Linked DNA regions of Homo sapiens: region 2 is linked to region 1. Evidence: fine-mapped QTL for protein levels in blood plasma. Region 1 holds a variant in brackets. A gene starts in the other region. All regions are shown on their reverse strands.

Region 1 (5,375 bases):
TCTCATAAATTATTATAAAAATAATTTCAGGCCAGATGAGGTGGCTCACACCTATAATCCCAGCACTTTGGGAGGCCGAGGCGGGCGGATCACGAGGTCAGGAGATCGCAACCATCCTGGCTAAGACAGTGAAACCCCATCTCTATTAAAAATACAATTAGCTGGGCGTGGTGGCAGCTGCCTGTAGTCCCAGCTACTCAGAAGGCTGAGGCAGGAGAATGCTGTGAACCTGGGAGGCGGAGCTTGCAGTGAGCCAAGATCATGCCACTGCACTCCAGCCCGGGCGGCAGAGCGAGACTCCGTCTCAAAATAAATAATAATAATTCCAAAAGTAAACCTACCTCGGCACAGTATTATTAAACTGATTAATGGCTGGCCATTTATGAACACTTAATATGAATCAAGTACTGTAAGAAGCACTCTATAATAGTGTCACCTCACATATTCTTCATAGAACCCTAAGAGGTAAGTGCTCACATAAAAGGTGAGAAAACAGAGGCACAGAAAGATAAGAGTCACCTGCATAGGCCTATATAACTGGTAAGTGGCAGAGGCAGAATTTTTATCCAGGAAATCTGGTTCTAAGTTAACTTTGAAAGGTAAACTATCTCAAACAGAAACAAGGATATATACTACGACATATTCATAGAAGGGTATGTATGCATGTGTATATATTTAATTTTAAGCCACTGTCTCAGTAATAAAGAAGGATAAATAGGTATAGACCAAATGTAAGTTAAAATGTTTGATTTCATTGAATGAATTAAGAGAAAGTCAGTCACCTATATAATGCCACATGACTGTATCTTCCATAGTTACCTTTTGAAGAAGAAAACTGGAGGCTGTTTATTGCACTTCTGATATCACCAGAACATCCCTGACAGAGCAACTCTAGAGAAGTTTTGTCAGGGACAGTAATTTTTCCTCCATTCTAAAATAAGAAAATTAAATTTAAAAAAAAGTATTTTCTTAAAAATAACAACAACAAAAAACCCCAACCTATTTTCTAAACTTAATTAACGTAAATTAGATTCTTTTAAACTTAAATACTAAAAAGGGCTGGGCACGGTGGCACATTCCTATAATCTCAGCAATTTGGGAGACTGAGGCAGGAGGATCACTTGAGCTCAGGAGTCTGAGACCAGCCTAGGCAAGGTAGTAAGACCTTATCTCTACAAAAAATCAAAACAATTAGCTGGGCATGGTGGCATGCGCCTGTAGTCCCTGCTACTTGGGAGGCTGAAATGGGAGGATCACTTGAGACCTGGAGATGAAGGCTGCAGTGAGCTATGATCTTGCCACTGCACTCCAGCCTGGGCAATAGAGCCAGAAAAAAAAAATTATCTTAAAATAGTAATAAAAAACTAAAAAGCCTTCATGCTAAACACTGGTCTATGAATGATACAAGCTTCAATGACTTATTACAGTTTAAGGTATACTTTCAGGAAATATTAAATACTGTATTATTTTACTTTTTCACTTTGACCAGGTTGTATTTTGAAGTTTTTACTCTTTCTCACTACATACACACAGATATATAACAACATATATGTGTACACACAAAAAAACCCTCAAAATGCAACAGACTGTGATAAAATTAAATATACACAAAATAATCTAACTAATTTATGAAATTTACATGAAAATTCCTTTACTGGGGTTATACATTATACAGTCTGGTGAGGATGAAAAAGCCATAATTACACCAATTATTTCTTCTTCTTCTTTTTTAAACCAGAGCCACTTGAACTAATCAATTCACTAAAAAAAAAATTTTTGTTTTGACACAAGGTCTTACTATATCACACCTGGGCTGGTCTTGAGCTCCCAGGCTCAACAAATCCTCCCACCACTGTCAGCCTTTGTAGCTGGGACTACAGGCATGCACCATGGCTCAATTTGCAGTTCTCATGCTTATAGTAGAGAATGTAGATGTTTTTTTAGAGACAGGGTTTAGCTCTGTCCATGACAGACTACAGTCATTTCATCTAGATCACTGCAGCCTCAAACTCCTAGGCTCCAGCGATCATCCTGTCTCAGGCTTCTGAGTAGCTGGGAATACAGGAGCACACCACCATGCCCAGGTAATTTTTTTTCTTTTTTTTGGGATACAGAGTTTTGCTCTTGCTGCCCAGGCTGGAGTGAAGTAGCGCAATCTCGGCTCACTGCAACCTCCACCCCCTGGGTTCAAGCTATTCTCCTGCCTCAGCTTCCTGAGTAGCTGGGATTATAGGTACCCGCCACCACATCCGGCTAATTTTTGTATTTTTATTAGAGATGGGGTTTCACCTGTTGGCCAGGCTGGTCATGAACTCCTGACCTCAGGTGATACACCCACCTCGGCCTCCCAAAGTGTTAAGATTACAGGCGTGAGCCACCGCACCTGACCCATTAAATATTTTCAAAACACTAATAGCATAATAATTCATCACAGTAATTGCTTCCTGTATTATTGGACTCAGTTTGTTTCTCATTTTTCACTATTAATATCTGTTATTTATTCAGTTAGGTGCTCTACACTAACGTATTTAATCCTCAAAACAACCTCTCCCTTGGATATTTCCCTCAGTTCCTGTGGTCCTAGCAGTGCAACAAAAATTATGTTTCATGCAAGATTTGGTTGATTTATACCAATAGGATTCCCTAAAACCATGACGCTGGGAGCAGAAGGTCCATCAATTTTTTTTTAACATCATCTTGATTTGAAATACAGAAAAAATGACGTACTAAAAGTGAAAAGAAGCCGGGCACAGAGGCTCATGCCTGAAATCTCAGCACTTTCAGAGGCCGAGGAGGGAGGATCACTTGAGCCAGGAATTCGAGACCAGCCTGGGCAACACAGAGAGACCCTGTCTCTAAAAAAAATTAAAAAATTAGCCAGGCGTGGTGGTACCAGCCTGTAGTCCCAGCTGCTTGGGAGGCTGAGGTGGGAGGAACACTTGAGCCCAAGAGGTCGAGGCTGCAGTGAGCCATGATTATGCCACTGCAGTCCAGCCTGAGCAACAGAGTGAGACCCTGTCTCCAAAAAAAAAAAAAAAGTGACAACAGCTGTATATGAATGTAAATAGACTTTACAATACTGAAGTGTATCTTTGAAAATGGTTAAGATGATAAATTTTATGATACATGTTTTTCACCATAATTAAAAAAAATGTGAAAATAAAAAAGTGACAACAGGACAATAGGAAGAGTTGAATTGTTGATAACTACCATACCTACATGCCAGAAAACATTTTCTTGATGACAGACACAATT[T/G]AGAACAGTAAACCAAGCAAAGGAAAAATTTACCTCAATGTGAAAGTGAAAGTTTAATAGTAGAAAAATGTTAAAGATTTTTAAAATCAGTATTTCCTACATTTGCTAAAATGACATGCCTTATGAGTATAATAAAATGTTTTAATTCTAAAAAATTAAAATAACACTCCTTCAGTTTACATAATACTATTTAAGCTAGGCTTTCTATAGTTATCGAGTAAGGTTTAATTAATCAGAGACTTACCTTGTTAGCTTCTATAGTCACTATTCGATTAAGAAATTTCATCATAATTGTTGGTGCCACAGGGTTGAAACTAAGTTTTATAAAGAAAGATAGCAGTTAAATGATTAATTTAAAAATATAATATGTATGTGACCTTTATAAGCAGAAATTTCTTTCTTACCTAATATTTGAGATAGAACACTCTTCCTGAATTTCTTTGGGAAACAATAACCTTTGATTATTATCTCCACTGAGACTGTCCGAGATTATAAATATAAGAGGACATCGACCAATCCTCACATACTTCCTAAAATAACAAAATACAGCAATGTTGAAATTTAAGCCACTTCTCATTTAATTTGGAGTTTTAGAATACTTCACTGAAACCTACCTTAGAACTTCATGTAAAGTATGAGAATCCCGATAAAACTGGTTAGGTAAATCCTATTGAAAATAAAAAATAAATAATAGTATAGTTTTATTCCATTGCAAATTTATTTTTCAAATTTATATTTATTGAGGTAGGCAAAAATATATTTATTCAATGTATTTTAAACAGAACTTTCACAGGAAACATGAAATAGATGATATCCGAAACAGTAATATACATCAATGGGGATCCCAATTTTTAGATCAAATTTCTTTGGGTTGCTTTCCAGTTACAGTATTTTCACTAGGAAGTAATTTTCCAAACTTTTCTTTTGTTTTTCTATACTTAAACCATTAAAATTTATAACATTCCTTATCCTACAGCTATTCCATTCAAGTTTACTAGAAGAGACTTTAGGTTTCTACTATTACAAAGCCTTTGTGTTGTATTTTACCAATATCACTACTATAGAGACAAGTTAACATTATCATGTAAGATATATCTCACAATTGTTTAGTCAATAGCTACAGCAAAATTTTAAAAGTTGGCTGGGTGTGGTGGCTCACATGTGTAATCCCAGCACTCGGGAGGCCAAGGCGGGAGGATTACCTTGAGGTCAGGAGTTTGAGACCAGCCTGGCCAACGTGGCAAAACTCCATCTCTACTAAATATACAAAAATTAGGCCGGCATGGTGGCAGGTTCCTGTAATCCCCACTACTCGGGGGAGGCTGAGGCATGAGAATTGTTTCAACCCAGGAGGCGGAGGTGGCAGTGAGCCAAGACTGCACCACTGCACTCCAGCCTAGGGGTTAAAGAGAGACTCTGTCTCAAAAAAAAAAAAAAAAAAAAGATTTTAGGCCAGGCATGGTGGCTCACGCCTGTAATCCCAGCACTTTGGGAGGCCACGGTGGGCATATCATGAGGTCAGGAGATCGAGACCATCCTGGCTAACACAGTGAAACCCCGTCTCTACTAAAAAATACAAAAAATTAGCCGGGCGTGGTGGCGGGCGCCTGTAGTCCCAGCTACTCCGGAGGCTGAGGCAGGAGAATGGCGTGAACCTGGGAGGCAGAGCTTGCAATGAGCTGAGATCGCGCCACTGCACTCCAGCCTGGGTGACAGTGACACAGCAAGACTCCATTTCAAAAAAAAAAAAAAAAAGATTTTAAAAGTTGTCCTTACTTCAACCAGAATTATCTTCTTATCAGTTCTCAGATCATCTCCAAGCATTTGTAACTTGTTATACTTTGTCGCTCTTAGTAGAAACTCTTTGAAAACTGCTATCTGAGACTGATAGGGAAACATATGGAAGCTTGATTCTGAAAGGAAACACATAACCACTTTTATTTTCAACAAATGATATACATTAATATTATACATCTGTATGTACACACACACATACTTGATGCATCTCACAATACTGTAGACTATTTCCCAATTAGGAAAAATCATTTAAATTTAAAATAGGATATTCCTTTCAAAGGACAAGAGTCAACATGTAGCCAGGCACAGTGGCTCACGCCTGT
Region 2 (5,375 bases), not on the chromosome of region 1:
CACCCCCACACCCTCTGTTCAACCTGAACAAGCTCTTCCCCACGCTGATGTTTTAACACCCAGTATCTTCCCGGTTCTTCATCAAGTGCTTTCCTTCTATTTGCATGAATTTCACAACAGTGCTGGGAAACAGCAAAATCAGTACCTGGCATATAGTGGGTGCTTAAGAAAACCCTGCTGTTGAAATACTCTTTTACAGATGGGGAAAACGTGGCTTAGGGAGATTAGATGAGGCACCCTCAGTCTCACTGTTAGAAAAGGGTTCTGTTAAGACTCCAACCTATATTATTCCTTATCTTCAGAGGCAAATTCGAGTTAGATCAGGAGTACAAGCTCTGAAATACAAGGAGTACAAGGCTGAAATCGGTCTTGGTTGATTTCAGCCTTTTCCACTTACTGGCTGTGTGACCTTCTGTTAGTCACTGAACCTCTCTGAGCCTTCCAGTCCTCATCTTTCTCGTCAGGGTTGAAGCACAGATTAGAAACCACGTGTACAAAATGCCCAACATGGAACCGGTGCTCAGTCAACGGCACTGCTGCCCCAGCCCCTCCACAACATTACAGAGCAGGCTGAACTTGCTGTGTGACCTTGGGTAACTCACCTTCCCTCTCTGAGCCTCAGTGTCATCATTTTTAAGATGATTCTATTGGACATGCCCATCTGGTCCCTCAGCATCCCCACTTAAACCACTGGTCTGAGCCTTGGGTCCACCCACACCTGCCACACCCTCCACCAGGGCTAGTCCCACCAAGCCACATACCTTGAAGCCGTCTCGGGTCACCTGGCCCTTCTGAAAGTTCCTCATGAACTCAGCATTCTCTGCCTGGGTGTGCACCTCCTTGGTGGCCTCCTTCAGGGCCTCTGACAAATCCTGGGGCATGCTGAGGAGGAAATGGGAAAGGTGAACACAAAGCTGGCTGGGGGTGGGGTCCTTCCCAACTGCTGAGCCTCCCACCTGTGGGCAGGCCTTCAAGAGACTCCCATCCTCATTCAGGCCACGTTCTCAATCGCTTTAAGATGCAGCCTTGTGGCTGGGCACGGTGGCTCACGCCTGTAATCCCAGCGCTTTGGGAGGCCAAGGCAGGTGGATCACCTGAGGTCAGGAGTTCGAGACCAGCCTGGCAAACATGGTGAAACCCCGTCTCTACTAAAAATACAAAAATTAGCCGGGCATGGTGGCAGGTGCCTGTAATCCCAGCAATTATGCCTGTAATTGCTTGAATCCCGGAGGCAGAGGTTGCAGTGAGCTGAGATCACACCACTGCACTCCAGACTTGGTGACAGAGAGACTCCATCTCAAAAAAAGAAAAAAAAAGAAAAAAAGGGCCAGGCATGGTGGCTCACGCCTGTAATCCTAGCACTTTGGGAGGCTGAGGCGGGCAGATCACCTGAGGCCAGGAGTTTGAGCCCAGCCTGGCCAACATGGTGAAACCCTATCTCTACTAAAAATACAAAAAAAAAAAAAAAAATAGCCGGGCATGGTAGTGGGCGCCTGTAATCCCAACTACTTGGGAGGCTGAGGCAGGAGAATCGCTTGAACCCAGGAGGCAGAGGTTGCAGTGAGCCGAGATCGCGCCACTGCACTCCAGCCTGGGCAACAGAGCAACACTCCATCTCAAAAAAAGAAAAGCAAAAAAGCAAAAAAACAAAAAAACAAAAAACAAAAAACAAATTCAGGCTGGGCATGGTGGCTCTCGCAGCTTTGTAAACACTCTTCAGTCATTAAAACACTAAATAATACAGTCCCCCAAACCAAGGGGGAAATCCTGGTACAGGTAGTTCGCAGTGGAGAGGAGGAGGAGGTACAGCATAACCCAGGAAGAAGCAGCAGCCCCATGAACCGGCATCTCCAAGTTTGTAATTGCTTTGATTGGCTTTTAGACCCAATATTTAATTCAGTTATTTTGTTAAAGTTCCAGATGCAAATCTCATGACCCCCTATCATGTTATGCTCATCATGAAGGCGTCAGGGTTAAAAAGCCTGAGAAAGTCTGCTTTAGTCAAAGAAAAAGTCTTTCTGGGAGTATTTCTGTCATGGGTCCGTATCCCTGCCTCCCCACAGAATTGTCATTTTTCCCTTTTCTCCTGCCCTGCTTCCCTGTTCTACAACACAGCTGGTCAAAGTCTCAGGAGAAATGGCACATGTCTGTAAGTCCCAGCTACTCTGGAGGCTGAGGTGGGAGGATGCTTAAGCCCAGGAGTTAAAAAAAAAAATACTAACAAATTATTGAAAGAAGGGAATGAGTGAGACCTGGAGGTGGGCAGACCAAGGTTCAAGGCCCAGTTCTGACACCAGCTAACTGAGCACTCTTGGGCATGTCGCCTCCCTGAACTGGGCTATCTGTGAGACATGGAACACCGCAGCCAGGGTGATGTCTGGCTCAGGTCCTCCGTAGCTAGTGAGGGACAGATGCCACCAAGAGAACCAAGCATGCTCCCCCAGGCTGGCAGAGCCCCAGAGATCTAGATTCAGCAGAGAGCAACTCCAAACACACCTCGAAAGTAGGATTAAAAAAAAAATTGGCTACCTCAAAGACTGGATACTCTAGGGACACTCCCATCTTGGTCACCAACCGCATACCAGGGTGCCAGGCATGTAAATTACCGTTCCTCCCTCCAACTACCCTACGGGCACAGGCAGGATCAGAACCCCGCACCTCCTGACTCCAGAGCCCAAGTTTCTGGCTCCTGGGCTCTGTCGCTGTGTGGCAGTGTCCCGGGGTGGGGCTAGGACGCAAGCAGGGTTGGGAGAGAAAGGCGCCCGTCCCGCGTCCCGCGCCCCGCGCTTGCCTGTCGGGTTGCGGACGCTCCATCCGGCCGGTGCTGGGCTCGTTCGTGCTGGCTCCGCGGGCGGCGGCTGCGCTGAGGACGCTCGAGAGGAGGCAGGCGTTGACTGCCGGAGCCGCGGCCGGTCACATTTATGCTCGGCGGGTCACGTGGGCCAGGCGGAACAGCTGATGCCCACTTTCTGGCCGGGCGTTGCAACACCCGCAGGGGCCCGCGCCCAGCCCGCCCCGGGCCAGTGTGGGGTGGAGAGGAGCAGTCATATGACCCTTGGGAAACAAAGTCTGGCCATAGGACTTTTAGAGAAAACACACACACACACACACACACACACACATACACACACACACACACACACACACACACACAAAACCTTTAAGGAAATCTGAGAAGCTGCAGGCTCTGGGTGTGATTTTGCTCCTTCCAGAGCCCCCCCTTCTGCTCCCTGTCCCCTTGGGACTTGATGCACCCCAGGCGTCCCAGAAGGTTCCAGAAAGCTGGGAGGCAGCGCTGCTCAGAGCAATAGCCTGGTGGGCAACATCAGGAACTTAGCAACCCCAGGCTCTGCTGTCTCCAGCTCCCTAAAATGTCACCTGCTGGAATCCTCTGCTGACTGCTTGCCTCCTCACACCCTCTTTAAATGTACATTTAGGATCTGTTTTTTGAGTTCCTGTCAAAAAACAGAGACTCTAGTATTTTCATGGTTCATCCCTACAACTGACCTGTGAGGGTAGATCGCTTCTATTTTACAGATGGGGAAACCGAGGCTCAGAGGGGTGCAGTGGTGTCACACATAAAGCAGGATGCCAGTGTCCAAACCCAGGGAGGAGACTAAGTCCCCGCCTGCCTCCTCCACACTCTGGCAGCACCTGGTATCCGCCTGGACTGGGACACCTGTCATACAAACTGCTTCCCTGCTGGAATGCGTGGGACACTCTTCCAGGCACATTCAGGTCTGACTTATACTCAGTGCCTGCTCAGGGCCCAGAGCAGAGCTGGCCCTTGCTGATCGCCTATTGAATCAATTCTGCATGAGGTGGACTCCTTAGAACTCGGGGGAAATAGGGTCACTGGGTGAACCCAGAGGACAAAACGAATGGACCAGATGATTCATACAGTCCTTTCCCAATACTGTGATTCTCATTCTAAGATTTTTTTTTTAAGATGGCTTTCAGGCCTGGCATGGTAGCTCACACCTGTAGTCCCAGTACTTTGGGAGGTTGAGGTGGGAAGAGCGCTTTGAGCCCAGTCGAGGTGGGAAGATTGCTTTGAGTTCGAGACTGGCCTGGGCAACATAGGGAGACCCTGTCTCTACAAAATATAAAATAAATTAGCTGGGCATGGTGGCACATGCCTGTGGTCCCAGCTACTTGGGAGGCTGAGGCTGGAGGTTCACTTGAGCCTGGGATGTAGAGGCTGGAGTGAGCTGTGACCACGCTACTGTATTCTAACCTGGGCAACAGAACAAGACGCTGTCCCTCAAAAAAAAAAAAAAACAAAAAAAAAAAAAAAAAACTTCCTGGAATTCAGCCTAGGGCCACTACAGCCCAGAGGCACTTCTGAGATTGTATTGGAAAGGATCATCCTCCCAAGGGTGAGCTAAGGGGCCTTGAAAAAAATTCCCCTTCTTCCTCTGAAGGTTCCCCGAAAACCAACCGACAAAAGTCAGGTTAAGAGGAGAAAAGACATACAAAAATGTATTGTAATGGGGTAATCACGGAAGAATGGTGACCCTGTAACCCAGTGGAGTACAGAGGCTACCCAGCCTTTTTTATAGGGGAGAAGGGAGATAGGGAATGCAGACAATTCTTTTGAAAGACAGTAAATCATTAGCAAGAAGGAATGGCCCTGGAGGTGAAAGGCCGACTTTAAGGGAAGGTGGAGGTGGAGCCGCACAGGGACAAAGGTTGTCCTAGGCAGATAAAGTCCCCCAGGTAATCTCTTGGCACTGTCCTCAGAAGAACAGGTAAATCTGTCTGGGTCTGGTGATGACTCCCAGTCTCTTTCTCTCTCCAGTGGTTGATCTTTCCTGGATATTTGATGAGATTACTAGAAAAAGGGCTTAACACTGGCCGGGCGCGGTGGCTCACACCTGTAATCCCAGCACTTTGGGAGGCTGAGGCAGGAGAATCGCTTGAACCCGGGAGGAGGAGGAGGTTGCAGTGAGCCAAGATAGTGCCACTGCACTCCAGCCTGGGTGACAAGAGCGAGACTCTGTCTCAAAGGAAAAAAAGACTTAACACAATTGCATTTCTTTTGTAAAGAAGTGTTCTTGGTCAGATAAGGAAATTCCAGAGAGCGTCTCTCCCTGTGCTTGTCGGGGGAACAAGACAAGCTTACAGGGACCTTGACTCTGAGGCAGCTCCTAAGGCCTCTCATCATGTCAAAGCACCAGTTGTCCTGGTATCACTTTCTGAGCCCCAACAGTGGCATGTAAAGCACAAAGGTGGAGACCTTGCCTACTACTTTGCTTTGTAAATTCCCAGTTCCTGGAATAGTGCCTGGTAGGTCACAGTTAATACTGAATGCATGCCTGAATGAATAGATGCTTCAAGGTCTCTTTCTGGGAAAAAATAATAATATTGTTAGG

Direction of the effects. Positions count from the first base shown, and alleles are read on the strand shown. Strength reflects both the effect of a copy and how common the allele is.
With allele G in place of T in region 1, the plasma level of the protein whose gene starts at base 2,892 in region 2 is higher (weak association).

Evidence for each region. PIP is the posterior inclusion probability: the model's chance that the variant is causal. The UK Biobank Pharma Proteomics Project read protein levels with antibody pairs (Olink). The fine-mapping took linkage between variants from a reference panel, not from the people measured, so its PIPs are less certain.
Region 2: it holds the start of HMOX1, and the variant in region 1 is fine-mapped to the plasma level of the HMOX1 protein (UK Biobank, PIP above 0.99).

What each region holds. Positions count from the first base shown.
Region 1 is chr5:69,384,590-69,389,964 of GRCh38, reverse strand. RAD17 (RAD17 checkpoint clamp loader component) reads right to left here. Exons shown (of 19, transcript NM_133338.3): 8 at 5,032-5,168; 9 at 3,870-3,922; 10 at 3,660-3,785; 11 at 3,500-3,569; 12 at 820-931. Among named protein-coding and RNA genes, the nearest start is that of RAD17, 17 kb to the right of the region's middle. The variant T/G (reference allele first, on the strand shown) is at 3,256.
Region 2 is chr22:35,378,613-35,383,987 of GRCh38, reverse strand. HMOX1 (heme oxygenase 1) reads right to left here and starts at 2,892. Exons shown (of 5, transcript NM_002133.3): 1 at 2,792-2,892; 2 at 762-882. The coding sequence starts at 2,814. RefSeq lists silencers at 2,622-2,791, 3,092-3,171.